7 linked regions of the Homo sapiens genome follow. The protein of the gene in region 2 interacts with the protein of the main gene of each other region in a biochemical or structural test. Each region holds a gene or a part of one and is shown on either strand. Other genes may lie near its edges.

Evidence for each region.
Region 1: the proteins of LDB3 (region 2) and TNRC6A interact in a test that uses a peptide from one of them, tested with the Homo sapiens proteins (one large-scale study listed by IntAct).
Region 3: the proteins of LDB3 (region 2) and ATRNL1 interact in a test that uses a peptide from one of them, tested with the Homo sapiens proteins (one large-scale study listed by IntAct).
Region 4: the proteins of LDB3 (region 2) and DGKH interact in a test that uses a peptide from one of them, tested with the Homo sapiens proteins (one large-scale study listed by IntAct).
Region 5: the proteins of LDB3 (region 2) and ASNSD1 interact in a test that uses a peptide from one of them, tested with the Homo sapiens proteins (one large-scale study listed by IntAct).
Region 6: the proteins of LDB3 (region 2) and MAP2K2 interact in a test that uses a peptide from one of them, tested with the Homo sapiens proteins (one large-scale study listed by IntAct).
Region 7: the proteins of LDB3 (region 2) and SLC22A11 interact in a test that uses a peptide from one of them, tested with the Homo sapiens proteins (one large-scale study listed by IntAct).

The regions. Positions count from the first base shown.
Region 1 is NC_000016.10:24,806,073-24,810,288, forward strand, and holds part of TNRC6A (trinucleotide repeat-containing gene 6A protein), read left to right. Parts: intron 1-133; coding exon 134-211; intron 212-501; coding exon 502-712; intron 713-3,277; coding exon 3,278-3,409; intron 3,410-4,216.
Region 2 is NC_000010.11:86,677,795-86,682,010, forward strand, and holds part of LDB3 (LIM domain-binding protein 3), read left to right. Parts: intron 1-1,572; coding exon 1,573-1,724; intron 1,725-2,287; coding exon 2,288-2,363; intron 2,364-3,641; coding exon 3,642-4,009; intron 4,010-4,216. UniProt on the Homo sapiens protein: May function as an adapter in striated muscle to couple protein kinase C-mediated signaling via its LIM domains to the cytoskeleton.
Region 3 is NC_000010.11:115,091,484-115,096,397, forward strand, and holds the start of ATRNL1 (attractin-like protein 1 isoform 1 precursor), read left to right. Parts: upstream 1-1,881; 5' UTR 1,882-2,061; coding exon of another isoform or gene 2,062-2,153; 5' UTR 2,154-2,267; coding exon 2,268-2,560; intron 2,561-4,914. UniProt on the Homo sapiens protein: May play a role in melanocortin signaling pathways that regulate energy homeostasis.
Region 4 is NC_000013.11:42,205,337-42,209,552, forward strand, and holds part of DGKH (diacylglycerol kinase eta), read left to right. Parts: intron 1-702; coding exon 703-810; intron 811-3,622; coding exon 3,623-3,736; intron 3,737-3,994; coding exon 3,995-4,129; intron 4,130-4,216.
Region 5 is NC_000002.12:189,667,755-189,671,907, forward strand, and holds the end of ASNSD1 (asparagine synthetase domain-containing protein 1), read left to right. Parts: intron 1-9; coding exon 10-191; intron 192-2,686; coding exon 2,687-2,972; 3' UTR 2,973-3,077; downstream 3,078-4,153.
Region 6 is NC_000019.10:4,092,583-4,096,798, reverse strand, and holds part of MAP2K2 (dual specificity mitogen-activated protein kinase kinase 2), read left to right. Parts: intron 1-1,349; coding exon 1,350-1,411; intron 1,412-2,300; coding exon 2,301-2,346; intron 2,347-4,216. UniProt on the Homo sapiens protein: Catalyzes the concomitant phosphorylation of a threonine and a tyrosine residue in a Thr-Glu-Tyr sequence located in MAP kinases. Activates the ERK1 and ERK2 MAP kinases.
Region 7 is NC_000011.10:64,565,430-64,569,645, forward strand, and holds part of SLC22A11 (solute carrier family 22 member 11), read left to right. Parts: intron 1-2,169; coding exon 2,170-2,384; intron 2,385-3,240; coding exon 3,241-3,349; intron 3,350-4,216. UniProt on the Homo sapiens protein: Antiporter that mediates the transport of conjugated steroids and other specific organic anions at the basal membrane of syncytiotrophoblast and at the apical membrane of proximal tubule epithelial cells, in exchange for anionic compounds.

The sequences.
Region 1 (4,216 bases), on a different chromosome or scaffold from region 2:
CTAGATAATGCTAGACATGTTGGCATTGGCTAGATCACGTCGTGCCTCTGTAGGTCCATCTGCTGTCGTCATTTGGAAGCACACACTTTGTAATGGTGTGATAGTAACAACCTTTTCGCTATCTTTCCTCTAGCGATTGTTAGCGCAGCAGCAAAGGGCGCAGAGTCAGAGAAGCGTGCCTTCTGGGAACCGGCCGCAGCAAGACCAGCAGGTAGAGCCCGCCCTGCAACTCGCAATGCTGTCTTTGTGTTAATAAACTCTGCTTATCTCCATTGTAGCAAGAGATTCAGAAATGTCTTTCTTAAAACAATCTTACTAAGATGTAATGCAGTATGTTTTTCATTAAGTCTGCTGGTTGCCCATGAGTTATGTGAACATTATACAGTGATTATTCACCTTTCTGCTGAGACGAAAGTGAATTCAAAAATGGAGAGGAATATGTAGTTTTCTGTAAAGACGTTTTCCCCCAGTAATTTTTTCCAATCATTTCATTGTTTTAAGGGTCGACCTCTTAGTGTGCAGCAGCAAATGATGCAACAATCTCGTCAACTTGATCCAAACCTGTTGGTGAAGCAGCAGACTCCACCATCTCAGCAGCAGCCACTCCATCAGCCAGCCATGAAGTCTTTCCTTGACAATGTCATGCCCCACACTACACCTGAGCTGCAAAAAGGGCCATCACCAATAAATGCTTTCAGCAACTTCCCTATAGGTGGGTTTCTCCTTGGCCCAAGTATTGGACTGATGCTTAGGTATCACAGGCGTGCCTCCTTCACACGTACCCTTACAGCTCTGTTCCTTCATGAAAGCTACATTGATCTCTTAGCTGTTCCCTCTCAGAGAGTTGCCATCCCCTCTCCTAGTTTTAACCTGCTCCACATTCAGGGAAGGTCTCTCTCCTCAAGAAAATCACGATTTTTCTTTTCTTTCCTTTTCTTTTTTTTTTTTTTTAGGACAGAGTCTTGCTCTGTCACCCAGGGTGGAGTGCAGTGGTGAGATCTTGGCTCACTGCAACCTCTGCCTCCCGGGTTCAAGCGATTCTCGCACCTCAGCTTCCCGAGTAGCTGGGATTACAGGCGCGCACCACCACGCCCAGCTAATCTTTGTATTTTAATAGATTTGGGGTTTCACCATGTTGGCCGGGTGGGTCTGGAACTCCTGACCTCAGGTGATCTGCCTGCCTTGGCCTCCCAAAGTGTTGGGATTACAGGCATGAGCCACCATGCCCAGCCTTCAAAATCACACTATTTCAAAAACTCCACACTCGTTTAAAGTGCATTAGAATAAAGGAAACATTTCACTTTTTAAAGGACTAGCTGTCTTAATCTTAAGTAGGATATTAAGGGTGGGAAGGAAGGCTGATGTTCTTATTAGAAACAGTACACCAGAGAATTTTTGAGCAGTGCTGTTTTGGTGAAACAGCTGGGGATGGTCACAGTCACATTTGCTAGCTCTCAGAACTTGAAGTTTTAACTACTGTCTAACTATGTATAAATGATTACTGATATAAATTTAAAAATGGAGGTAAGAAAGGAGATTGCCTTTCTTATACATGCAACTCCCCACCCCCACCCACTCTTTTTTCTCTGTTATCTCCAGGCTTTTATTCACTGGGTAGAGATTTTGAGCTTATATGTTGTTTCTTTCCTAGGTCTCTTTTTTTCTTGTGCCCTTGATTATATTTTAACCATTGATTGTTCATGCCCTGTTTATTTTGCTTTTTTTCTCTCTCTTTTCCTATACAGTGGTTTCTTGTAAACCAGCTTTGCTGGTTGTTAGCCAGAGTGTTTGAAGACCATCAGTTAACTAGTTGTTCTGGGCTGTGGGCAGAGGCTGGGGCATGCTGTTGCCCCTGCTGCTGCCTCACTCTGTGACTGAACTGGTTTGGCTCAGCCTGGTATTACCACAGACTCTCACCTGGGACATAAATTGTACTTTGAGTCCTTAGGATTGTTAGTGATCTCTGCATTTCCAAAAACAGTTCCCTTGTCAGTTACTACTGTGGGTGAATACTGAAGAAGCCATTTAGTGGTGGCCAGGTGATGTCAGAGACAACAGTTAGTAGTAAAAGAATGATACCCAAGTACAGGGAGAAGTTTTTGTCTCATCAGTGAAGGGAGCTGGCTCTTCCTATTTGACTGCACACTTGACATATAAATTGGCCACATAAGTTCTAAGCATAGGATTTCCTGCCCTGGCCAGCTTCTCAGTGAGGGATACTTCTTGATTAAGAAAGTCTGCTTAGCCCATGCAAATACCAATACAGTTATCTAAGTTCGGCAACAGGCTATGGCCTGTTGGCCAAATTTGGCCCACTGCCTGCTGTTGTAAGGTTTTGTTGGACACAGCCACATTTTCTCTAACCTGGGGTCTGTGGCTGCTTTCGTGCTGCACCAGCAGAGTTGCATGGAGACACCGGGACCATGTGGCCCACAGAGCCTGAGATACCGGCTGAACCTCTGCAGAAAAAAATTGTCAACTCCTGATCCGATTGATGGGTCCAAGAGTAGCAAATTTAATTGCTCTCTGCAAAAATACGCATGGTATTAGAGAATTTGTATTATTAAAGTTTTCAGGTTTGACAGACCTTAACATCACATGGACTCATCAGACCAGAGAATTTAAAACAATTTAATTTGGAACTTTAGAATAAGAACCTCTTGGGAATTGTGAAACAAAGATTCTGGCTCCCACTGGAAAGTCTTCATTTTTAAACAAGCGTTTTAGGTGATTCTAATATTAATAGTCCCTAGATTACTCTTTTAAGAAAAACTAGCTTAATAGTTTTCTGACCACTGTATCTAAGGTTGAAATTTCCATTCTTGTTCCAAGAGAATATCCAAGTCTGAGGGGCCTCATCAGCAAAGGTCAAGTAAATTGTGCCTTAAGATATATCTGTCCCCAGCCTAGGTGTAATTGCTAGTACAGGACATTTTTACTTTAGAATTTGCAAGCAAAAGATAGCAACTGAAAGTGACCACAGATCTTCATGCATAGGTACACTTGGGAAATAGCTAAACAGATACATTTTATTCCAAGTAAACTTATACATCTGGCTTCCTTAAAACTTTTCTCCCTCTTATTTTGCCAAGGAGTTTTAAATAAATCATCAAAATTTTATGGAGAAATATTTTCTACGTATAACTAAATTATAGTATTAACAGTTATGTGGTTTGAAAACATTAGTTACATGTTTTTCTAGGAAATAGAAGTTGTGCTACTAGAAAGAAAATGTGCTGTATTTTCTAAGGTTTTGTTTTGTTTTTTAATTTTTCAGGCTTGAACTCAAACTTGAATGTAAATATGGATATGAACAGTATTAAAGAGCCACAGTCAAGACTAAGGAAGTGGACGACAGTGGACAGCATTTCTGTGAACACATCTTTGGATCAAAACTCCAGCAAACATGGTACAAAAGATACATCTTACCAAAAAAAAAAAAAAAACACACACACCTGCAGAATACTAGATTTAGGCCTTTATTTTATTTTAAATGTGTTTTCAAAGCCAAATTATCTTAGAACTTTTCCTCATTTAAAAAAAGTTGTTATTAAGTCTTAGTTACAATAAGAGACTTTCAGATGAAAAGCAGAATTTACCTCTACTCTGTTTTATAAAGGAGAGATCAGATGATACATGTTTAAAAATTATTTTCTCTTTGGCTTTTTACATTTTTCTAAGTGATTTTATTCTTATATTATTACACTTATTAACATTTACTGGATTTAATTTGATATGTTCTTAGGACATTTAAAACTTCTACCAGGGTCCCATTCCGTCACCCAGGCTGGAATGCATTGGCATGATCTCAGCTCACTGAAAACTCTGCTCCCGGGTTCAAGCAGTTCTCCTACCTCAGCCTCCTGAGTAGCTGGGATTACAGGCCTGAGCCACCATGCCCGGCTAATTTTTGTATTTTTAGTAGAGACAGGGTTTCATCATGCTGGCCAGGCTGGTCTCAAACTCCTGACCTCAGGTGATCCATCTGCCTTGGTCTCCCAAAGTGCTGCGATTACAGGTGTGAACTACTGCACCTGGCCCATAATTTTATTTCTATCAATTCCTTATATATGGACACATTTCTTTATATAGCTTATTGCTATGTGTAAGTCATATGGATTTAACAGTATTGTCTTTTCAGCAATTAAATTTTTTTTAGAAATGCCGTTTTCATCTTATTTAGTATTATCCATTCACCCAGCAAATATTAATCGAG
Region 2 (4,216 bases):
GGCAGGGTTGTCGGCTACCTCACTCTCTCCACATCTGCCAGGTAGCACAAAGCACCTGGCACTAAGATGCTTTTGAGTGGGTGCATTTATCCTGCCCTTCAGCCTGGCAGTGTCTCTGGGATGCTGCTGTGTCTTAGCTGCTGCATCTCCCTTTTCTCCTGGAGTCTGAAAAGTGCTCCATAGCTTTGCAGGGTGCAGGGGTTATAAGAGGCTAATCAAGGTTACAAATAGCCTGCAGTTTTTTGTTTGTTTGTTTGTTTTTAGACAGAGTCTCGCTCTCACCCAGGCTGGAGTGCAGTGGCATAATCTTAGCTCACTACAACCTCCACCTCCTGGGTTCAATCAAGAGTTCAAGCGATTCTCCTGCTTCAGCCTCCCGAGTAGCTGAGACTACAGGCACATGCCACCATGTCCAGCTAATTTTTTTTGTAATTTTGGTACAGACGGGGTTTCACCATGTTGGCCAGGCTGACCTCAGGTGATCTGCCTGCCTCAGCCTCCCAAAGTGCTGGGATTACAGGCATGAGCCACCACACCTGGCCACCCTTTTTTTTTTTTTTTTTAAGACCGAGTCTCCCTCTGTCACCCAGGCTGGAGTGCAGTGGTGCAATCTCAGCTCACGGCAACCTCTGCCTCCTGGGTTCAAGCAATTCTCCTGCCTCAGCCTCCCAAGTAGCTGGGACTACAGGCGCCCACCACCAGGCATGGCTAATTTTTGTATTTTTAGTAGAGACAGGGTTTCACCATATTGGCCAGGCTGATCTCGAACTCCTGACCTTGTGATCCACCCACCTTGGCCTCCCAAAGTGCTGGGATTACAGGCGTGAGCCACCACGCCCAGCAGATGCCTGCAAATTTTTAAGAGACAGAGTCTCCCTCTGTCACCCACGCTGGAGTTCAGTGGTGAGCGATCATAGTTTATTGTAACCTCAAACTCCTAGGCTGGAGTGACCCTCTCACCTGCCTCCTGAGTAGCTAGAACTACAGCCATGCACCACCACACCCTGCCAAATATTTTTATTTTTGTAGAAACAGGGTCTGGGCTCCTTTGCCTGGGCTGGCCTCAAACTCCTGGCCTCAAGCAATTCTCCTACCTCAGCCTCCCAAAGTGCTGGGATTATAGGCATGAGCCACCATGTCCAACAGCCTCCAAACCTTAATGGCTCAGAACAACAAAAGTTTCTCATTCATGCAACGTCCAATACAGTGCTCCTTAATCATCTCTCCTCCTCTCCATGCCCTGCATTCAGTCAGTCAACAAGCAGAGAGTGTGCAGGATCACAAGGATGGTTGCTAGAGGCAGACCTGGAAGGAGCATACATTGCTTCCACCCTCATTCAGTTGGCCAGAGCTAGTCCCAAGGCTGCAGTCAGACACAAAGCTCTAAGCAATGTGGTAGTCATGTGCCGGAAAGAGGAACTAGGCTTGGTTAGCAGCTGGTACTGGCCGTAGCGAATGAAAAACACAATGACGGCTTCTGTTGAATACTCCCGGGTGACTCTTCCCCAAGGACTGGCCTTTCCTCAGGACCACCTTCCTTATGCTCACCCCCCACCTCCACTATCCAATCAGATCACACCAGGCAGCAAGGCAGCCCAGTCCCAGCTCAGCCAGGGTGACCTCGTGGTGGCCATTGACGGCGTCAACACAGACACCATGACCCACCTGGAAGCCCAGAACAAGATCAAGTCTGCCAGCTACAACTTGAGCCTCACCCTGCAGAAGTAGGTGGGAGCTCTCCAGAGCAGGGGGCGGAGGTTTGGGTGTGGGCATGGGGCAGGGGCCAAAAGAGGGATTGTCCCATAGCAATTGAGTGGGCCCCGCCCTGGGCTACAAAACTGTGCAGGAAGATAAGGACAGCCCTGGGCCAGAGGAATGAACAGGCCCAAGTCGCTGTCAAGCACCTAGAGGCAGACATTACTGCCTCACTTTACAGTTAAGGCAGAGATGGTGGTCCTGGTGCTGCCCGTACGTGGGCCATTGGTCCTGGAAGGCAGGTCTTACCTACTTCCACTTTGCCCAGGCAGCCCCCAGTGACGTAGCAGGGGCCCATGGATTCTGACCAAAATGCCCAGGGGCCATGATTTCTCCATCCTCGTCGGGCCCAGGGCCTTCTTGGGGAGATCCAGCCCATGGGGTGGACAGTGGATCTGGGGCCCTCTGACTCAGCTATCTCTGAGAGCTGACTCTGGCTCTCTCTTGCTCTCTCCTCACCAGCCCTGCCCAGGCAGGAGCTTCTGGCCCCAGGGGCAACTTCCTCACCTGGTCTCATTTCTGGTTTCTACAGATCAAAGCGTCCCATTCCCATCTCCACGACAGCACCTCCAGTCCAGACCCCTCTGCCGGTGATCCCTCACCAGAAGGTAGGTGCTGACTGTGGCGGCGGGGTCCACTCAGCCCTGGTTCCTGGAGTGCTGGCCCTGGCCAGCCTGCCTGGTCTTTGGCTGGCCCAACTGGGATGAGGCCGTGGGATCAGCCCTGCCCCATCCCTGCCCCTGCTGCAGCTGACCCTGGGGAAGTGAGGCAGCCCCTTGGGAGAGACTTTCAAGCCCCTGTTGAACACTGGATGTGGGAATGAATGCCTGCCTGGGTGCAAGCCACCTCCGCTATGCCTCGTGGCTGGGCTGATAGGAAGCCAGCTTGGGCAGCAGTGTTCCCAGGAGAGGGGTCACCCTCCTGGCCAGGCAGGGGACGAGCGTCCAGGCTCTGACCTTCATTTGCCAAGGGGGCCACCGCTGGGTGACTGTGGCTGAGGCCCAGCTTGACGAGGACCTCCAGGTGTGGAGGGGCCTGCTGGCCTCACCCAGATCTCTCCCTCTGGTTTCCACTTCCCCACCTGCCCCTCCCAAGTGCATTCCCCTGTAGCCCTTAGGACGTGCTGGCAATGGCAGGCACAGGGGAGAAGGGAGGCCAAGCCCTGGCTCCAGACCTCACCACTGCCTAGGCCCTTCCCAAGGCCCCGCCAAGCAGCTCAACCCCCGAGGGCTCCCTGCTCAACTTCTCCCCCTATGTGAACTGATAGTGACCCCACCTGTCCAATGGGGCAGATTGGGCAGGGCAGTGGGGAGAGGGGAGAAAAAGAGGCTGACAGGGGTGGGGTAGGTCACAGACTGGGGAAGTGGGTGGAGGGCTGCTTGGGAGATGCTTGCAGAGGTAGACTGAGGGGCCCAAATGTGAGCTACCCAATTCCTCAGCTTCCCTCCTCACCTCCCCACCACCTGCCCACAACCAGCCCAGGAACTTCATCTCACTGGCAGTGTGGGGTCAGTGGAGCAGGAGGCTGGGCTGTGCCCACTGGGCACCCACTCTCAGGGGCAGGGGGAACAGACACAGAACGGGCCATCCCCTGACCCCTACACCCACTTCCTCGGGCCCTGGGGGCAGGAAGCTTGGCTTGGCTTCCATGCAGGGCTTGGCACTCTGCCCAGCTGGATGCCAGCCTCACGCCAGGCCAGGAGCCATGTGCCTGCCTGCTCCTCCACCAGTGTCCTCCCCTCCAAGTGCTGCGCCCAGGCGCTCTGGGCTTCAGGCTGCGGGGCTCGCGCTAACACATCTGTTTCAGGTCCACGCAGGAGCGCTGGGACGCGTGTGGCCTCTAACCGCTCTCTTCTCTCTCCCCTGCATGGCCTGCCCTGTGCCAGGACCCCGCTCTGGACACGAACGGCAGCCTGGTGGCACCCAGCCCCAGCCCTGAGGCGAGGGCCAGCCCAGGCACCCCAGGCACCCCGGAGCTCAGGCCCACCTTTAGCCCTGCCTTCTCCCGGCCCTCCGCCTTCTCCTCACTCGCCGAGGCCTCTGACCCTGGCCCTCCGCGGGCCAGCCTGAGGGCCAAGACCAGCCCAGAGGGGGCCCGGGACCTACTCGGCCCAAAAGCCCTGCCGGGCTCGAGCCAGCCGAGGCAATATAACAACCCCATTGGCCTGTACTCGGCAGAGACCCTGAGGGAGATGGCTCAGATGTACCAGATGAGCCTCCGAGGGAAGGCCTCGGGTGTCGGACTCCCAGGAGGGTAGGTAACGGACATACAGCTCTCCACAGGTGGCCTGGGCCACCTGGGTCCTCGGTGCTCGGCAGAGACCTGGTCAGGTGGTCAGAGCGAGGCACTGGCCCCAATCCAGCCAGCCCCGAGCCCATGAGGTCAGCAGTGATCCTGCGGCATTTGCCATGAGCCGGGCATGCTAGCGATTTATACAACCAACCACGCTGGGGTGACATG
Region 3 (4,914 bases), about 28 Mb from region 2:
ATGAAAAGATGTGATCCAGAACAGGATCTTCCTTTTAACTGGTGTCTGCAGTGTTCTCTCCTCTGCTTCTTCACTCATTTCAAGAAGTCTCTAAGGGGCAGCCTGATGTGGAAAAGATGTTAAGGGAAGAAGAGGGCATCCTAATTCTAGGTTTGATAAGGACATTTTTGATACTGGTAAAACCCTGAAATTATGGAAATTATGATTTGTTCTGTATGCCAACGAGAATCGTGGTTTTCCTTTTGCTCTTTTCCTTGCGAAGGAGCCAACTCCTTCTGGATCTTTGTTTTTATTTTTTCCTCCTTAAGTCACTGCTGAGGTATTTTTAAACCAAGCCAACACGTATATTTTATTCACCGAAGGAAGAACAAAGCATCTGCTAATAGAAGCAGTGAAAAAAGCACAGCAGTCAGAGGCCTCGTGTCTAAAGCTCAGTTCATTACTCCTAACCTGCCATTGGCCAATATTTCAACCTTTCTGAGTTGCTCTTTCTCATCTGCAAAATGGGGTTAATGGAGGATTTCATCTGCAAGTGGGGATAAGAGACATGAAAAGAACTGACGCGAAATAAACACGAGTTGAATCCTAACAATAATATTTTGACTATGTAGTTACAACAAACTTTTCTTTCTTCTTTTTTTTTTTTTCTGTGAGAAGTGCCTTTGGTGGATTTTGAATTCTTTTTCATACTGCCTGTTCTTTGGTGGGACTCCAGCAACATTGCTGTAACTCGAGGATATATGGCTGCAATGTGTGTTTGGCTTCCTTTCTCAAGGGGGTCAAATAAAAAGGCAACTGTTTAGAGAAGGCACCAAAGTACAAAACAAAAATCTCAGAATATGCCAGCCAATCTTGGAAAGTCATCTGAAGAAGAAAAAGTGCTGCTGAGGAAGGAAAACGGCCCTTTTGTGGGCATCACTTCTGCTCTTCTGAAAAAAAGCCCCGATGCTGCAATATTTTTCAAGGCAGAATATCGTCCCAGATGGAGGAGGGAGCACTGACAAGCAGAAAAGGAGAGACGTGCGGTTTCGAGGCAGCGTCTGTAAGGGGTGGAGAGCGCGGGGCTCGGAGCCTCGCAGTTCTTTGTTGGGGGCGCGGGCTTCGTTATTCCCGAGGCAGCAATGGCTCCCCCTCGGAGGTCCCTCCGCGGAGACCGCCTCGCGCCTCTCGCAGTCCCCAATCCCCGCCCCTCCCAGCCCTCGCTGACCCCACAACGTGGTCGGACTGCGGTGCCTTTAAGGCTTTTGCCTGCTGCACATGCTCAGCTCTTTGTGTGTTGTTGGAGTTTTTCTCTCTTAAGAGAAAAAGAAGAAATAGGCAGGAGGATGGGGCGGAGGAAGGGGGAAGCGCTAGGGAAAAAGCGTTGCACTTTTGCAGCTGCAGACGGCGGACGGGAAGGACTTCTTTTCTGCTGAAGCTGCGAAGCCTGTGTCGATCTCTCATTCGTGGGGCTCCCGGGGCGCGGGGTGCGGGTGGGGCCGGGGTGCCCGCACCGGCCGGGGGGAAGGGCACGCGGGCCACACCTGGGGGGCCTGTCTCCAGTCAGCGCGCGGGCCAGGCGGGGTGGGCGCGCGCGCGTGGGGGAGTCCCCGGTCCCTGTCAGGGGCGGGGCGAGACCAAGGCGCCGGGCCTGTGGGGAGGAGTGTAGGCGCGCGCGAGGGCGGGGGGCGGCCCCACGCATCGTGGGCTCCCGGCGCTGCCGCTGCGGCCGGCTCGAGGCACCGGAGACAGAATGGCTGCCGGGGCGCCCTTGACCGCCGGGCGGGCGAGGCGGGGCTGACCGCCGCCTCCTTGATCGCCCCCTTCCACGTTGGGCGCGCCCACTTCGGGGCGCCCGCTCGGCCCCCGCCCTCCTGGGCGCGCGGCGCTCGGAGCCGAGGCAGTTGGCGCGGGCCGCGGGCGAGGCGGGGCCGCGCGCGGGGTCCCCTCCTCCTGCCGGTCAGGTCCCCTCAGGAGCGCCGGGCGCAGTCTGCGCCTCCCGCTCCCCGCCTCCGGCCGGGTCCGGGACGCCGCGGCTGTGGGGTCGGCCCGCTAAGGACAAGGTCGGGAGACTGGGTGGCGATGCCCGAGTGCGACTGGAGGCAGCCGAGCGGAGGCGACGGCGGTTGGGATCTGTCCCTCCTGACCGGGGAGCGGGACTCGGACGGGCGCCGGTGAGGAGGAGGAGAAGCGGCGGCGGAGAGGTTTTCTGCGGCCGGAATTCCCTTCAACAGCATCCCTGTCGGCGCCCGCGAGCGCAGTCTCGCCGGGCAGGGGCGCCGGGGAAGATGGAGACTGGGGGCCGGGCCCGCACTGGTACCCCGCAGCCAGCGGCCCCGGGGGTGTGGAGGGCTCGGCCGGCGGGCGGCGGCGGCGGGGGCGCCTCCTCCTGGCTGCTGGACGGGAACAGCTGGCTGCTGTGCTATGGCTTCCTCTACCTGGCGCTCTACGCGCAGGTGTCCCAGTCCAAGCCGTGCGAGAGGACCGGCTCCTGCTTCTCGGGCCGCTGTGTCAACTCCACCTGCCTCTGCGACCCGGGCTGGGTGGGGGACCAGTGCCAGCACTGCCAGGGCAGGTTCAAGTAAGTGCCTTCGCCGGACCCCGAACCTCCAGCCCTGCCTCGCTCCCGTCGCGGCCTTCCCCGCCCCCCTCGCGGCCTCCCCCGCCCCCGTCGCTGCCTCTGATCCCCCGGCCGTGAGTGAACCTCAGCGCGCGGCGGGAGCGGGCGAGAGTGGGGCCCGCGCCGCGCCCCCTCCAGCCCCGGGGCGCCCCGGGAGAGCTCGGGCCCGCGCGGAGCCCTGACCAACGGGGAGCTAGGCATTTCTCGAGCGTTCCAGATGTCCGCAGCGACTTCTGATCCGCTGCTCAGCACGAACATTTTCACAATCAGTTATGATGCCCAGCACCATTTTCTTGGGATAATATTTAAAAATCAGAAATTGTCCAAGTTACTTATGAAATACATGCGCATTGTGAAAAATTCACAAAAGTGTAAAGGTTCAGTTATGATCTATGAGTGCCTCTCTCTTTCCCCATTCTCTTCTCTCTAGAGGTGACCCCTTCTAACATTTATTTAGTCATCATAGTGATGTTAATAAGTAGAGTTTATGATGGACTTGCTAAGTGCCAAACACTCTTCTAAGCGCTTTATGTCAATTTTCTCATTTATTCCCTACAACAACTCTGTGAGTTGCTAGAATTATTATGCTGGATTTACGGAGAGAAATCGAGGCGATACATTGAAGTAACTTGGCCAGGATTACACAGTAGTAAGGGCCGAGTTATGATTCCAAATCAGCTGGCACATTCTGGAGCCAGTACACACTCCAGAATGTGTACTTTTAACGAATTTGCTGTGTTGTATTTGCTAGGACAATCTTGAATTGAGAAATACAAAGGTGACTTTAGGTTAGATAGAAGGACGTTTTTATGTGGTGAGGATAATGGATTTTTTTCTGATCGGTTAATTCACTGTCAGCTTTTGTGCGGGAACATCGCTTTGGCTTGTTTGAAGCTCAAGGAGCCTAAGAAGTTTGCTTGCTAAGGTGAAGGTACTTTCTTCGTACTGGTTGGTGTTTATTACATTCTTGCCTGATATAAAAAGCAATGGGTCACAGTGTAGGGGAGTAGCAAAAGTCACTTAATATTGGGGCAGGCTTCTAACAACATGCAGGTAACAGTCATTAAGAAAGTCAGCTTCTTAGTCTTCTAGATACTTAATATGAAGTTTGCTGGCTGGTTTGTGGCTCTTGAATATTGTAGATTACTGATATTGTTAGGCTGATAGCCAAAATCTAGGTGAAATTTCTCTTGGGCTCTAAGGCAAAGGTAAGACTGGTTCACCTTATTAATGTATTCTAGGACAATTTCCTGGAATTTTAAACACAGCATACTTTCCTTTTTTTTTTTTTTTAAAAAAAAACTTACTATTACTGATTAAAATAAATGTCCCTTAAAACTCAATGTAAAAATGTATATTTTTAAAATGGCACTTTAAAATTTTAGGTAGAGTCTATGATTTAAATTAACTAGTAGGTTTTGGAAGTGAAATCTTAAAGTGAAGTTTTATGAAACTTATGCAATAGGTTGAAATTTTTCTAGGGTTTATACTTTAAAGGTAGTATAGTAATGTAGTTTTAAAAATACTTTTTAAAAAAATTAGGAGAGATGCTGATTAAAAGTTTAAAAAGTGTTTCAAGATGAGGAAAGAGATCTTAATGAATTCTGCTTGTTAGTTGTTTTTTTTTGCTTGTGTTCTTAAACGTTTGCTATGACAGTAGAATTCAGCGTCTTTACCTAGCAAGAGAGAATTTTGAACATGTAAACTGGTAGTCAGCAGTGAAAAAGCCTCATCCATTTTTTACATTTTTTTTACATAAATAGGGAGAGTGCCTGATTTATATGTAGGGATATTGGCTTTTGTGTGGGTGGGTTTGCTCCGTTTGTCTAAAGAGGACAAAATTTGCTGCAGTCCTGAGAAGCTTCATTTTAAAGTAGCGGAACTTGTTAATCAGCTGGATCAGCAGCCTGTGACCTCACTAGCAGATGTTGTCCCAGTTAAAAAGATCACAGATCAAGTTAAAACTAGCTTAAATAACATTGAGAGGTGGTGTTCATAAACAAAATACATTAGTGAGTAGAAGAAGAATAGATATTTGATGTAGATATTGTTAAATAACAATAAATCCTGAGCTAATCACTGAGTATTCATCTTTTCCTTGGAAGCTATTATTTCCTAGGACTCATTGTACTCTATTGGGTAAATGCTTTTGCATTTCTCTGTGGAATACAAGCTATTAATTAGAGTAAATATAACTGGTGTAACGATCTGTGTTTTTATTATGTATACTCTTGGGGATAAAGAACACATTGGTATTTAATGTTAAAGAGAAGGATTATGTATAGTAGAAAAGAATTCTTCTTGGTAAAGTACAT
Region 4 (4,216 bases), on a different chromosome or scaffold from region 2:
TAATAGAATAAACAGCATTAATTGAAATTAAGAAACAACATTTATGAGAGAAGGTAACAGTTCTGCTTCTACTCAGTAAGAATTTATTCACATCCATTCACCAGCCATATCCTTTTTTTCCATTTACATGGTAATTTACTTTTCATTTAAGTGCTTAATGAGAAAGTAAGGACTGCAAGGAGCTTTCTGAGATGCATATATTTTTGCTTGACTTTGGTTCTGACTTGTACTTGAAGTATTCAGCTTTGAGTTTCACCAGTCCCCAGGTGGTTGTAGAGCCCCAGCAATGTACCAGGGACTGTGAGAGGGGCTAAGTGAGATGGTTAGGATCAACTTTCTCTTACCCAGTCTGCTTTCAAAAAGATGCTTAAAATAAGTACATAGAGGACCACAATGCAGGTGAAAGTACATAAAAGGCCTGAAAATGATTCAAGAAAAGGACTCCCTGGTTTTGGAGGAAAGAGGTAAAGCATTTCTTTAAAAATCAGTTTTTTGTAATAACTTCTGCTATAGTTATTTATACTTCAAACTTTTTTTAATTAAAAAAAATAAGATAAATGATTTGGTAACGTGTAGAGAGCAGACATTACGAACACACTGTGCTCCATTGTCCTTCATCTTTAGTGTTTTAGTATCTTCCATACTAGTGGTTCTGCTCTTTTTATCTAATCTCTACTTTTTTTTTTTTTTTTTACCTTACAGTGTGATGGGCAGTATATTCCTCTTCCCAGCTTGCAAGGCATAGCCGTGTTGAACATTCCCAGCTATGCTGGAGGCACTAACTTTTGGGGTGGAACTAAAGAGGATGATGTAAGTAATGGGAGTAAATAGTTTGTTTCCTCAAAAATAATTATATCACTGGAATAATTTGCTTTTGTAAATGGGCTGTTGAATAGTAGTTTAATTTCATGTTAAATATTTTGCATTGGGTAAGTGAGGCATGGAATAGATTTATTTAAGATTTTATTGTAACAGTCTCTTGTGGATGTACTCCAACTTTTCTCATGTTGAAGATACAGATATTCGTATCTTGGGATGTATGTCACAATTTTCTGGATGAACATTAAATAGTGGGTCTGCTTTTGGAAAGTAGATTTATGAAATAAGGAAGGGAAGATTTTACTTTTTAATTTTATACCTGCATCTGTTTTCTATCGCTGCTATAACAAGTTAACACAAATTTAGCCACCTCAAACACATTTATCATCTTACTGTTGTATATGATGGGAGACTGGCACAGTCTTACTGGGCTAAAATCAAGGTGTCAGCTGGGCTGTTGCCTTCCGGAGGCTCTAAGGGAGACTCTTATTTCCCTGTCTTTGGAGCGTCTCGAGGCTGCCCACATTCCCCTCCATCTTCAAAGCCAGCAAAGGCAGGTTGAATCCTTCTCACATGGCATCTCTCTGATGTCTGCTGCTTCCTCTTCCACTTTTGATGACCACTGTGATTACATTGGGCCCACCTAGATCACCCAGGATCATCCCCATCTCAAGGCCCTTTATTTAATCACATCTGCAAAGTTCCTTTTGCTGTGTAAGGTAACAGATTCACGGGTTTGGGGGATTAGGACATGGACATTTTAGGGGGCAGAGAGGGGGCATTATTCTGCCTACCACAATACCTTTTGGTACTTTTACTTTTTCTTTCTTTCTTTCTTTCTTTCTTTCTTTCTTTCTTTCTTTCTTTCTTTTTCTTTCTTTCTTTCCTTCTTTCCTTCTTTCCTTCCTTCTTTCTTTCTTTCTTTCTTTCTTTCTTTCTTTCTTTCTTTCTTTCTTTCTCTTTCTCTCTCCTTCCTTCCTTCCTTCCTTCCTTCCTTCCTTCCTTCCTTCCTTCCTTCCTTCCTTCCTTCCTTCCTTCCTTCTTTCTTTTTTGAGACAGAATCTTACTCTGTCGCTCAGACTGGAGTGCAATGGCGTAATCTCAGCTCGCTACAACCTCTGCCTCTCAGGTTCAAGCAGTTCCCCTGCCTCAGCCTCCTGGGTAGCTGGGACTACAGGCACACACCACCACACCTGGCTAATTTTTGCATTTTTAGTAGAGACGGGGGTTTCACCATGTTGGCCAGGGTGGTCTCGAACTTCTGACCTCAGGTGATCCACCCACCTCGGCCTCCCAAAGTCCTAGGATTACAGGGATGAGCCACTGCATCCAGCCTCAGTACTTTTAATTTTCTAAACTTGTGTGTGTATATATTTTTTATTTTCAGAAATATCAAGAGGGCTCATTTGGCCGGTCGAGTTTAGGGCTATTTTTGTTTTTCTTTTCATACTTTTCTATATTAGAAAAAGAAGAAAACACAACCTTACAAATGTAATTGTTGTGAAAAGAATGAAAGAGAGGGCACAATTATTAAAGTGTGTATATATATATATATATATATCAGTAAAAATGAGAAGTGTTATCACAGTCTTTATTTGAAGAGTCACATCCATTGATTTGAGTTTATGATATAATGATATAATGGTTCCTACTGATCTGTTATTCTCAAAGATCTTAAATGGACAGATAGGGATACAGTATAAGATCAATTGGAAAGTATTTGTAATTTTCATGACATAAATATATTCCAGTCCTATTCGAGTATAAAAGCATCTTTTGTCTGCTTGTCACTATTAAGTATTTTGAAGGGGAGAAATCAGTGAGATTAAGGTAAATAAAGCCAACATTCCTTGAACACCTGCTAGGTAGTCCGACAATGTTCTAAGAGCTTCACATTCATTATTTAATGTCCACGTTGTTTATTTGATTTTTACTGCTGAAGAATCTAAGACAAAGTTTCCAGTTAGTAATAGCAGAGACAGGGTTTAAATTCAGGCAGTATAATAAAAAAATTACAAATTACAATGTTAGCAACTTTGTGTCCTGATATTTTCAGTGAAAGTTTTAATTAGCTTATTACTTTATACTGAAAATTGTTTCAGATGCATATTATTTATGATATAGTAAAAGAGAGAGTAAGGTAATACAGCCTACATATAAAATTTTAGAGTAAATTAATTTTGTGAAAATGCATCTAATGTAAAGACAAAATAAGTCTGCATAATTTTTATCTTCTGAGGTTTCTATTTGCATACTCTCAAGTTCCCTCAAAAGTTTTGTATTAAAATATAAAGCACATATGTATATTGCTTGTAAAACCTTGAAAGATTTCCCTTAGAATATATCAAGTAAACTGGATCATAATTTGCATCTTCATTAGCTTTAACTTTATGAAACTATATCACCTTTCTATGACACTATATCGCCTTTGTAGTTTTTTTTAGATTTCCAAAACTTACATGTATCATCTTATTAACATGTTTGAATTAGGTATGAACATGTATTTAACATGTTTTATTCCAAGGTGAATTATTTAGAAATATATTAGTTAACTGGTCCAAAGAGTAGTTTAATGAGAGGTATGAGTAGTATATCCGTGTATATTTGAAAACCCTTTTTAAAGTTAGGTTTATTGGAAGTCATCTTCAGAGATTTTTTTCTTGGATTATTATTTCCTAATAATATTTACTTAAATATATTATTAAATATATTAAATATATGTAGATATATATTGCAGTTTACATTGCTTAACGTGCTCTTCACCTAAACATTCAGTAGAAGTGTAATGTAGTTTTTCTTTCAGATATTTGCTGCACCATCCTTTGATGACAAGATCCTGGAAGTTGTAGCAATATTTGATAGCATGCAAATGGCAGTTTCAAGGGTCATTAAACTGCAGCATCATCGAATAGCCCAGGTTGGTTTCTCTCGTCAAACCTGACTGCACTTCTTGGGCTAAGGAGGGTTGAAGGAATCTATTCTAAACAACTCGTACACTGGATATTCATCTATAATATTCTGACTTTGTTGTCATATCAGTTTTTACCATGTCATTTATAAGTGATAAAGCATAATAGTCTATTCTGTAGAATAGTCTAATACTCAAGCCTTCATAAAGATTGAGTGTCATTTTCTCTGGATGATTTGTACTCTAAAATGATTTGTTTTATTTCAGTGCCGTACAGTGAAAATCACTATATTTGGTGACGAAGGAGTCCCAGTGCAAGTGGATGGTGAAGCGTGGGTTCAGCCTCCAGGGATTATCAAAATTGTGCACAAAAACAGAGCACAAATGCTAACAAGGGACAGAGTATGTAACAAAAACATTCTTCTAGAATATTGTCAGGTTTTTAAAGAATCTGAAATTGTTATAAAAAAATAGAAAATGAAAACATTT
Region 5 (4,153 bases), on a different chromosome or scaffold from region 2:
ACCTCATAGGTAGTTCTCACTGGAATTGGTGCAGATGAGCAACTTGCAGGTTATTCTCGTCATCGTGTCCGCTTTCAGTCGCATGGGCTGGAAGGATTGAATAAGGAAATAATGATGGAACTGGGTCGAATTTCTTCTAGAAATCTTGGTCGTGATGACAGAGTTATTGGTGATCATGGAAAAGAAGCAAGGTAATTCTAATCATTTGAGTGTTCTTACGGTATTTTTATAAAAACAGCAGAGTGTAAATGGAGACTTTAAAGTTTGTTTTCTCTTTGGAGACTGTTCACATGAATAAGAGCAGCAATAATAGCTTGGCTTTGTATTATAAACAAAGTCAGAAACAGAGCTGGGAAGAGCCAGGAGAGCATTTATTTTCTAGAACTCATTCTCTAAGAAATGTCTTTTCAGTAATTTTCAAAGGTAACATAATGACAGGATTGTTTTTAAGACTATAGTGAAAAATACTGTCAAAGTAGGCCAGGCATGGTGGCTCACACCTGTCTTCCTAGCACTTTGGGAGGCCAAGGCGGGTGGATCACCTGAGGACAGGAGTTCAAGACCAGCCTGGTAAACATGATGAAACCCCACTTCTACTAAAAATACAAAAAAATTAGCTGATCATGGTGCTGCATGCCTGTAGTTCCAGCTACTCGGGAGGCTGAGAATGGCTGAACCCAGGAGGTGGAGGTTGCAGTGAGCCCAGATCGCGCCACCGCACTCCAGCCTGGGAGACAGTGCGAGACTCTGTTTCCACAAAAAAACAGAGTAAAACTGAGATAGTGAAATACTAAGAGAAGGTATTTAGAGGGTTTTGTTCAGCTTTTAATGTTTGCTTTCCTCCCAGTAAGGGCATAAGCCCCACCTGCAAGCCTTCTCCAGTGTTATAGAAACTGGCTTTGTCTCTATAGACATTTCTGTATGTACAGATCCATGCTGATTTGAAGGTAGTCCTTACACTGGATATTCCTCTGCCACGTTTTTTGAACACAATTTAGTTACATATTGCAGATTACCTAAAACCTTCAAAGAAACCAAGGCACTTTCATGTATGTATTCTTGCTTTTCAGGTTTATTTTTACCTATATCATATTTCTGAAGGTAGTGAACAAGTACAGTATTTGAATAAAACTTTCTAAAACATTAAGTAAGGATAAAGGAAGATGTGACATTTAGTTATAAAGAGCAAAAATTCATTCAAGTAGGCTAATTGATTAAGTGGTAGTTTATTACAAGGGTGCAAGCATCCAAGAATAGGAAGTCCAAGTAAGCTTCATGAGAATTAAACATACTACACTTTCTCTCCCTCTCTCTCTCTCTCTCTTTGACTTCATTGTTTCTTGTCTCTACTTCAGTCTTTTCCTCTTTCCACTGACTTGTAGTTGCCTTTACACAGTTGTCTTTCTTAAGTTTCTGGTCCTAGCCCATGTAAAAGTTTAGCTACTATGTCATTATTCTGTCATAATTTTCAAGATTTCACTATAAACTGATAACTAATGCCATAATAAAGTCCGTAAACTGTTAAACTGTTTTCTCTTTGAAGGACATGAGAGAGGTAGAAATTCAGTCTGTTATTTCAGCTAGGTCATAGAGAAAGGAATTTGTCTAGTAAAAGCCCTTACTTATGAAAGTATTATATTATGCTCAAATAAAAATGCATATGAAGAATGTTTAAAGCAGCTAATACAGAATTGTGATATAACAAATATAGTGGCTAGATCTAAATAATTTATTACGTATCTTGACATACATATTAACAGTAGTGTGTTGATTTGATTCTCTAGTTAAATTTGCTTTTGCAACTCATTCATTTTTATGTAATATTCCAGATAACAAATGTCTTTGTCCTTTCCAATCTCTTAACCTAGAATAGGATGTAATAAAACGGAAACACTAGTGTAACTGTATTGCATTTTGAGATGTGGGATGGTGGGTGTTAAAGTATTTTAAACAGAAAAAGAACATAATTTTCTAGAAATTGGGGAAGGAAAAGGGCAGAAAGTTTTTTTTTAATCGAATATTTTGTTTCTAGGTCATCCCAGAATTTAGGGGAAAAAAATCTAATATTTTGTTCTGTTACAGTAATTTATCACCATTTAATTGGTTTAAGTATAATTAAACAATTTTGAGTAACAAAATTTTACCATAAGTGTTTTGCAGGTTCAGGACTGTGGAGCCCTTCTATATTGGTTCCATATCCCTAAAGTGTCATTTCTTTAGACCTGATAAAGATCAGACACAGATTGAATAGTTAGTTAAGATCATGCTCGTAGGCTAGGTGCGGTGGCTCACTCCTGTATTCCCAGCACTTTGGGAGGCCAAAGCAGGTGGGTCACTTGAGTTCAGGAGTCCGAGACCAGCCTGGGCAATGTGGCGAAATCTCATCTCTACCAACAAATACAAAGATTAGCTGGGTGCGGTAGTGCTCACCTAGGCAAAAAAAAAAAAAAAAAATCATGTTTGTTTTCAAGGCCTCCACAAAGATACCTTGTAAAACAATTTGAAATTATTTCTGGACACAATAAACCTAATTTATTTATTGAGATTTAGACTATTTTGTAGTATATGTATTAAAATTAGTCATGTTGTGAAACAATTTGGTTAAATTTTAGCTATAAAACTGTGTATAAATCAAAGCAGGTTGATTTTATTTTTACATAGTGGTTATATTATCTGTCTATTTTAGATTTCCTTTCCTGGATGAAAATGTTGTCTCCTTTCTAAATTCTCTGCCGATTTGGGAAAAAGCAAACTTGACTTTACCCCGAGGAATTGGTGAAAAATTACTTTTACGCCTTGCAGCTGTGGAACTTGGTCTTACAGCCTCTGCTCTTCTGCCCAAACGGGCCATGCAGTTTGGATCAAGAATTGCAAAAATGGAAAAAATTAATGAAAAGGCATCTGATAAATGTGGACGGCTCCAAATCATGTCCTTAGAAAATCTTTCTATTGAAAAGGAGACTAAATTGTAATGTGATTCACAATGTAACAATATAAAAATAAGTTTTTATATAATTATATAAAAGTAAGATACTCTGCTGCTTTACTATTGTATAACATAGTAGTTTTAAAGTTCATTTGGTTGAATTTTCATTTTTTCCTGTCACAGAGCTTCTAAAACCATGGAATTTCCTTAGTGATAGGGAATATCTTTTGTTGTTCATAATAAGCCCCTTTTGATCACACCTGAGTTTATGCTAATGCGTTGACTTAGGGTGAGGTCTCTAAATAGCCTTTAACACCTGCAGCTTGGGAGGCCAAGGCAGAGGGATCTCTTGAGTCCAGGAGTTTGAGAACAGCCTGGGCAACATGATGAAACCTCATCTCTACCAAAAAAAAAAAAAAAGTACAGAAAATTAGCTGGGCATGGAAGCATGTGCCTCCCTACTCAAGAGTCTGAGGTGGGAGGATCACTTGAGCCCAGGAAGTTGAAGCTGCAGTGAGGCTAGGATCATACCACTGCACTCCAGCCTGGGCGACAGTGAGACCCTGTCTCTAAAAATAAAAATAAAAACAAAAATAAAAATCAAGTGATTAGAAGAGTTGGAATTTCATCCCCACCCACCAACCTCTGGGAGGGAGAGTGGTGCTGAAAATTAAGGTCTATTAAACTTTATAAAAACTCTTGAACAAGATTTGATGAGCCTCTGGTTTGCTGAACATGTGGAGGTGCTGGGAGTGTGGTATGCCCAGAGAGGACAAGGAAGCTCCCTCTCATCTTAATTTTTTTTAATACTTTGCCTTATGCATCTCTTCAATTTGGCTGTGCCTGAGATGTATCCTATATAATAAGCCAGTAAACATAAGTATTTCTATGAGTGCTGTGAGCCATTCTAGCAAATTATCGAACCTGAATAGGGGGTCATGAAAACCCCCAGTTTATGTAGCTGGTCAATCAGAAGTACCAGAGATCCAGACTTGAAATTGCCATCTAAAGCAGAGACACCTTATGGCACTGAGCCCTTAAATGGAAGGATCTGACACTCACTCCAGGTAGATAGAGGCAGGATTAAACTGTAGGATACCCAGCTGGTATTCAGAGAGCTGGAGAATTGCTTGGTAATTCTCCACACATCTGGTGGAAAAAATCCACACATCTGGTGTCAGAAGTGTTGTGTGAGAGTGAAGAGAAACAGTTTGTTTTCCCAGACTC
Region 6 (4,216 bases), on a different chromosome or scaffold from region 2:
AGCCCTGGGCTCAGGCCGAGGAGCCAGCCTGCCCCTTGAGCAGTGGCCCAGTGTCTCTGCATCAGAGCGTCCTGGCGCCCGTGGGCGTGGACTCATAAATCACCCCGCTTCCACGGAGAAAGGTACAGGAATGGCCCTTGCCTCTTGGAAGGAGGCCCAGAGAGCCTAGAAGGACCTGTAGGTCCCGGGGTGGCTCCTGCTCCGTCAGTCCCCATAACAACCCAGTGAGCCACAGTATGAGGGTTTCCACCGCCCAGATGAGTAAAACAAGGCACAAGGAGGGACGCGGCCTCCTTCCAGGCCTGCAGCTGTCAGGGAGGCACAGGACTGCACCCCAAGGTCCTGTTGGCCACGTGACCAGGCCGGGCCACCTCCCTGGGCCTTCTGTGGGTTTCTGTGTCTTTGGTGGCCCTTTGGAGCTGGGGCAGAGAAACGGGCATTTGAGCTGCCTGCAGACTGGGCTAGGCCTGGGGTTGGGTGGCGAGATGATGACGGAGCCAGGTGGGGTGGCCCTGGTGACCCAGCTCTCCCTGCACCTAGCAGCCACACCCATGCCCAGTGAGCACATCCCCCGACCTCTCCCCCGCCTCTTCCCGCCCCTGCCCCTGCGCGGGAAAGGCCTGCCCCTGCCCTGCTGGCACCGCTTACACGGCCACTCCCGCTCCGGGGACGTGTGTCAGGCCAGGCTCCCCAGTGCTTGGGCTTAAAACTGTGGACCCAGTTTGGCCGGGCACGGTGGCTCAGGTGTGTAATTCCAGCACTTTGGGAGGCCACAGTGGGTGGATCACCTGAGGTCAGGAGTTCGAGACCAGCCTGGCCAACCTGGTGAAATACCGTCTCTACTAAAAATATAAAAATTAGCCAGGCGCAGTGGTGGGCACCTGTCATCCCAGCTACTCAGGAGGCTGAGGCTGGAGAATCCCTTGAACCCCGGAGGTGGAGGCTGCAGTGAGCCAAGATCACGCCATTGCACTCCAGCCTGGGCAACAGAGCGAGACTGTCTCAAAACAAAATAACTTTGGATCCAGATGTCCCTCTGTGGGGCCCAGTCCCAAAGCTCATCCTTCAGCCAGTGACACTGGGGAAGGAAGCAAGTGACGACACTCGAGAGGTTGTCCTGTTGATAAAAGGGGGACGCACCCCACTCTTTCCCTCTAAGCAGCCGTGACTCTCAAACGAGAGCTTTCGGGAGAAGGCCACCTCTGACAGGGTGCAGCCCAGTTGGCATGTGGTGTCGGCCAGGCCTGCAGGGTGGGTGACCGGACAGGACAGTGAGGGGTAGAGAGGGCTGCAGCCGAGGGTCCCTGACGATGCCCAGGGCTGACCCCACCCTCTGTTCTCCTCCACAGCCACCTCCTAAGCTGCCCAACGGTGTGTTCACCCCCGACTTCCAGGAGTTTGTCAATAAATGGTAGGTGGAGCCGGGCTGCCCACACCCCTGGCCGGGACCCAGATGTGCCACTCCTTCCGGGTCCTGGGTGGGGCCCGTGGCCCAGCCTGCCCATCCAGAATCCCAGTGCAGCGTTAGGCAGGACTCAGCCCAACGGGAAGCCAGATTCCTTTTCCCAGAGCTGTGGGGCTGCAGCTCCCGGCTGCCATGCCATCCTGTCCGTGAGCCCAGGGGTGAAGCAGGATTGCAGGCCCTGTGCACATGACGGTGTCCCCAGCTCACTGTCTGCAGCAGGAGAAGCCTCTGTCTGGTCCCCGGACCCCTGGTGTGCTGACTGTGGGCTCCCCGGGATCCGCCCGCAGGTTCTGGGAGGGTCGCCAGCCCCACTCCATTCTCCTGCCCCCAAGCACCCAGCAGCACCTGTGGCGTGGGCTTCACAGGCATGTGCCGCAGACCACGGGGAAGGAGCTGCGGACACCCCGCTGCCCACAGGGCCGGTCCATGTGTGTGAGCTCGGGACGCCGTGGAACGGCACCGCACTCCTGGTGCCGGAGTTGCCCCGGGCCCTTGGCGTGCGCTCCGGCGATGTTGCCCCGGGCCTGGGGTTTTATTAGACAGTTAGCTGGGGTTGCGTCCAGGCTTCTGACCCACCAGGCGGGGTTTCCCACCCTCTTTCCCTCTCACCCTCCCGCTGGGGGGTGTCCTGCCCCTGGCACCAAAGTGCAGAGGTGGATCCCTCGTCCTCTGCCAGGAGGCAGAACAGAGCAGCCACTCTGTGCCACTCTCTCTGGTCGGAGAGATCCAGGCCCCCTCCGACCACGGCCCACACGCGGGTGCCCCGGGGCCACCAGCTGACTGCCCTGTCTTGTCTCCTCCACCGCCTCCCGGTCCTGCCTCTTGGAACCCCCAGCCTCATCAAGAACCCAGCGGAGCGGGCGGACCTGAAGATGCTCACAGTGAGTGATGCCAGCGGGTTCTGGGACCGGGAGGGTGCAGGCTGCCACCCAGGCCCCAGGAAATAAGGCTGCTGGGCCTGGCCCTGCCCGGGGAGCCAGCACCTGCGACCAGGATGTGGGCAGGCCGGGTGTGCCAGGCCACGCCGAGGACCCTCTGTGGGTCTCTCTCATCCATGAGAGAAGCCATCCTGGGCTGGCTGCGGGGAGCAGAGGGTGTGTGCGTGGGAACAGCTCTGGGCTCTGAGCTCCGCCGCTCCTGCCTGGTGCTGGTCCCGCACCCACAGGATGAGACCCCGGGCTTCTTTGCCCTCATGAGAGGCTGGAGGCAGCTCTCAGCCCCCCAGGCTCCTTTCCCTGCAAACTAGAGGGTGACCATCCCTGTTCTGCACACTGGCAAGCAGGTCCCCCGAGGCCGTGCGTACTTCGGTGTCCCCTTAAACCCCCATCCTCTGATATCCTCGGAAGCCCAGCTGTTCACCAAAACTCGCCTCCCCAGCGGGGACTACACCCTCAGAGGAGGGCCCCGGGCATCATCCTCCTGCCCTCAGCCCAGCCTGCATCCCGAGTGCTTTCCCATACCACAGCCACCGTCAGCGACCTTCAAACCCCTCGACAGCTGATTGGCGGATTGGAGATGCCACCCCCCTAGACAGCCCGTTACTTTCTGTGCCTGTAAGAAAAGAAGAGATGCCAGCTACAGACACCCAACCGGGTGCCTTCTAATACTGGAATGTGGCTTTCAGTTTTGTTTTTTTCTTGAGAGTCGGACAGAGTCTCACTCTGTCGCCCAGACTGGAGTGCAGTGAAGCAATCTCAGCTCACTGCAGTCTCAGCCTCCCAGGCTCACACAATTCTCCAGTCAGCCTCCCAGGTAGCTACGATTACAGGCACCCGCCACCACACCCGGCTAATTTTTGTATTTTTAGTAGAAACAGGCTTTCACCATGTTGTCCAGGCTGGCCTCAAACTCCTGACCTCAGGTGATCCACCTGCCTCAGCCTCCCAAAGTGCAGAGATTACAGATGTGAGCCACCGCACCTGGTCAAAAAAATTTTTGAGATACAGCCTTGCTCTGTCCCCCAGGCTGGAATGCAGTGGTGCGATTGTAGCTCACTGTAGCCCCAACTCCCGTGCTCAAGTGATCCTCCCACTCAGCCTCCTGAGCAGCTGGGGCTACCGATGTGTGCCACCAAGCCCAGCTAGTTTTTGTGTGTGGGTTTTGTTTTTCCCCGCAAAGATGAAGTCTCACTCTTGTCACCCAGGTTGGAGTGCAGTGGTACGATCTCGGCTCACTGCAACCTCCGCCTCCCAGGTTCAGGGAATTCTCCTGTCTTAGCCTCCTCAGCCTCCTAAGTAGCTGGGATTACAGGTGGCTGCCACCACGCCCAGCTAATTTTTGTATTTTTAGTAGAGATGGGGTTTCCCCGTGTTGGCCAGGCTGGTCTCGAACTCCTGACCTCAGGTGATCTGCCTGCCTCAGCCTCGCAAAGTGCTGGGATTACAGGCGTGAGCCACCGTGCCCGACCTGCCCAGCTAGTTTTTTTTATAGAGACAGGGTCTTGCTAATTGTCCAGGCTGGTCTCAAACTCCTGGGCTCAAATGATTCTCCCACCTTGGCCTCCCAGAGGGCTGGGATTACAGGTGTGAGCCACTGCACCTGGCATGTGTGACTTTTTTTCTTTTTTAATGAGGCAGGCTGGGCATTGTGGTGGGCACTTGGAATCCTAGTGCCATAGGGGGATGGCTCTCTGAGGCCAGGAGTTCAAGGCCAGCCTGGGCAACATGGTGAGACTGTGCCTCTCCAAAATAAATAAATAACTAAAAAGAGAGGGGTACTAATGTTGAAATAACTTTTTTTTTCCCTCAGACG
Region 7 (4,216 bases), on a different chromosome or scaffold from region 2:
AGCACCCGCAGGCCTCAAGGGGGTGCATTTCTGTCTGGGACAGGACGCAGACAGCCCCAGCAGGCAGGAGTCCTGGCAGGCAGCAGAGAGGGACTATGCACAGGTGGGATCTGGAGGCTGCCATCTGCAGGAAGCCAGAGGAAAAGGCAGCTCTAGGCTGGGGGTCCCAGGGTCCCAGGGAGGTCCCAAGACAGAGGCAGAGCCAGGGTCCCTAGAGCCAGGGGACCAGCCACGGCCGAGGAGTACCACTGTGTGTCATCGTTAGAGACTTACCACTTTCCTAGAGACCATGGCCATGCTCCTAGAGGGTGAACCTGCATTCGCTGACCCCTCCATGCAACCCCACTTCACTGATGGGGAAAGAGGATCCCAGAGGGGTAAGGAACAAGCCCAAAATAATAGAGCCTGCATTGGAACCGGGCTGAGCTAACACTTGGCTTACCGGCACTGTCACTGCCAGGGCCCGCGCGACCAGACCCTGGCCCTCCCCGGGACCCAAGGTCATCTGGGCCCAGGAAAAGGCCCTTAAAACAAATTCAGTTCCGGTGACATCCAAAAGAGCATATTAAAAAGCAAGGACCAGTCAGGCGCGGTGGCTCAAGCCTGTAATCCCTCACTTTGGGAGGCTGAGGCAGGAGGATCGCTTGAGCCCAGGAGTTCAAGACCAGCCTGGGTAACATAGTAAGACCCTCTCATCGCTACTAAAAATCAAAAAATGAGGCAGGAGGATCACTGGAGCCCAGGAGATAGAGGCTGCACTGAGCTGAGATTGTGCTACTGCACTCCAGCCTGGGCGACAGGGCAAGATTCCGTCAAAGGAAAAAAAAAAAAACCTAAGGACCTGGTTTGATTGGGACTTTTATCTTGAAATAAAACTGAAGTTTAGGAAAACGTTTCTTTTATGCTATATTTAACCACATATGGGTTATGATGGCAAATACTTGCTACATCTTAGAACAAAGATAGATCAAATGCCTTTTTTAAAAAACTTCAATTTTTTTCTGATAAATCAGAAGGAGTGCTCTCACTGCAAACACCCGGGACCAGTTTTTTTTTTTAAAAAAAAAAAAAACCTTCCAGGATTCCTCAGTTCTCCCAGGGGCCGGCTCTGCAACCTTTGTTATTCAAATCAGAGGCTTTGAAGCTGGTGACCTTGTGGGTTTTCCTGTCTTGTTAACCCAGTTGTTATCTGTCCAAGGCTCCAGTGTCGGCCGCTTTGAGCACCAGCCCAGTGACTCTCACGTCACTCACATAAACTTCATGAAACACCGCGGCTTGTGCGATTTTACTCTGATGTTGTTGGGCTGGTGTTGTCCGATGTTTATTGGGTGATGCAATCAGGTGACGCCTAAGGGGAGGGCTGGGAGGAGCATCTGGGTTAAGCAGGGAGAGCACAGATTTTAAACGTGGCCGAGAAGAATTTTACCTTGCAGCCAGTTGTGGATCCAAATCCCATCTCCAAACCATGAGAATTTAAATACCGTAAATTCAGCTACTCGTGAGCCAGTGGGGTGGGGGAGTGGGCAGAAAGCAGACCCTGAGATGGAGAAGGGAAGGCAAGGGGAGATGCAGCCACAGCCTGGGCCCAGCCCAGCCCCTGGGAGCGTGGGAGCTGGGGCCTTTCTGGGTGGTCCCTCTGCCCCATGAACCAGTCACAGGCTGCTCTCCCCAGAGAAGGGGCAGCACTCCCAGGGGCTGGGGGACAGGCTCTCCATCCTGAATGTGGTCTGGGCAATGCAGCCCAGGGTCTCCCGAGAGGCCCTGTCCTGCCATGATTCCCATCTTCCAAGAGAAAGGCACAGTGTGACTGGTTATCAGAATCAAAGCCAGAGAGGGCTAGTCCGGAAGTGAGGGGCAGCTCAGAGGCCCCCGAGGGCAGACTTGGTCCCAGCCAGAGAGGCAACGCCCCAGCGCATCGCTGCCCCTGACACAAAGCCTGTGTGTGAAGGGATGGTGGAGCCACCCTGCCTGCCCTTTCCTGGAAGAGCCTGACGCTGGGGTTGTGTCCTGAGTTTGGCAGGCTTCTGGGATCGCTGGCCGAGACAAGCCCAGGATTGTCCTCCGGGGTTGGCCATGTCCTCCCAGGCAGCTCCTGGTGGGAGGTGCTGTTGCTGTTGGGGTGCCCTCTCCCCGGCAGGGCAGGGACCTGACTTCCAGCCTTGCCCGCAGTTTCTCTCTATTGATCTCCTACTATGGGCTGGTCTTCGACCTGCAGAGCCTGGGCCGTGACATCTTCCTCCTCCAGGCCCTCTTCGGGGCCGTGGACTTCCTGGGCCGGGCCACCACTGCCCTCTTGCTCAGTTTCCTTGGCCGCCGCACCATCCAGGCGGGTTCCCAGGCCATGGCCGGCCTCGCCATTCTAGCCAACATGCTGGTGCCGCAAGGTGAGGCAGGCGGACTGGGCGGTGGGACCGGGCCCTGCTTCCCCGCCCACCCCACTGCTCTGAGCGTGGGGCCACATCCCCTCCCTGGCCCCAGGAGCTGCCTCCCTGTTTTCTTTCTGAATGAGGGAGGCTATGAGGACCTGGAATCCCTCTCTGTGTCTCCTTTTATTGCTGAGGGTGGGAGACTGGGGGAAAGGGACAGGGCGGCACGTCGTGCGGTGGCGGCAGAGCCGGGAGGAAGGCAGGAGGCTGCCTTGCGGCTGGCAGAAGGCCTGAGCGGGGACGGAGGCGGCCGGGGCCCTGCAGGCTGCAGCGAGAGCCCAAGCTCTGAGCGCGAGCAGCTGCGAGGAAACTGACAACGGCGAGCACCTCCCAGCAGTTCAGGCACCTCCACGGAGCAACGCGTTGGGGAGGCCAGGCCTGCGGCCAAAAGGGGGCCCGGACCTCCGCCTCCAGGCCAGGGCTTCTGCCATCCCCACACAGGCAGGCTGGCGGGCAGCAGGAAGGCTGCTGTGGACCGGGCCCGGCGCTCTCTCCGTCATAGCAAGAGGCATCTCGGGACCCTAGGAGCCGCGGTGGGGGGCATTCTTTCAGTGCAGCCTCCACGGCCGGCCAGGCTCAGCTACCCTAGACCTGGCTGGGTTTCTGCCTGTGCCCCTCGGGCCCCTGCCGCGATATCGCATCCTATGCTCTGTCCCCCAACCCCAGCCCTGGGCAGCCCCGCACCAAGCCAGCAGGGCCGGGGACTTGTAGGGAGCCCAGGGTCCCCTCTGCTCCAGGCTGGCTGGCCGCACACTGACTAGCCCCTGGGTACCCTCCAGGGCAAACCCCACTCTCACCCCCTTCCTGTACCCAGATTTGCAGACCCTGCGTGTGGTCTTTGCTGTGCTGGGAAAGGGATGTTTTGGGATAAGCCTAACCTGCCTCACCATCTACAAGGCTGAACTCTTTCCAACGCCAGTGCGGTAAGCTGGGCTGCAGGCCATGCCCCAGGGCCAGCAGGGCCGTCCTGAGAGGGCGGTGGGAAGGGAAAGAAGGGTCTGGCAGCCAGGGAAATGCAGCCAGGGCCGCTCAGGGTCCCCCCCAGGACAGCTCTTCCCCTTGAGAGTCTCGACCCAGACAGAAGCAGTACAGTAGAGCCCTGGGGACATCTGGGCCTGTGTTTTCACACCATTTTGAGCCACAGAGTCATCTGTCCAGATGGAATCTTATAAGAATCCTGATTAGGAGACCAAGAGCTGCCCTGGTAGCAGTGGGGACCCTCAACTCACTTCCCACCACTCCTTCCCTGCCCCAAGAGAGCCCCAAGTCACCTCCTTGGAGCCCAAGGGCATCATAAAACACAAATGGAAAACCAGTGGTCTAGAGTCTAGGCCACCCCCACATTTGATATTTGGGTAAACTGAGGCTCGGGGTGAAGGACTGGCTCAGCAGAAGGGTAGGACTGGACTCCAGCTCTCCAGACTTTTAGCCCAATGTTCTTTCCACCACTCACTCATTTCTCCATATTTTAATTTGTTGTTTGGACAAGCATTTATTGATTTTGTTGATATCGTATGGAAAGCCTGAGTTGGGAGCTCAGTGGCCTAGCAGGAGTATGGAGAAGCCCTTAAGTTGCCCAAGAGTGGGGAAAATGAGGTGGGCCCTAGAGATTTCCCCTGAAACACTAGATGCAAAAATCTGGGTGGGCTCCGTGGAGGAGGTGGCATTAGAGGAGGCCTTGAGGAGGGCAATTCCCTCAGCCCAGCTTTCCTTCCCCTGGCATCTGTGAGCCCAGGATGTCTTCCTGCCACAGGGCCAGCTGTTACAGGGATCTGGGCCCTCCCCTTCAC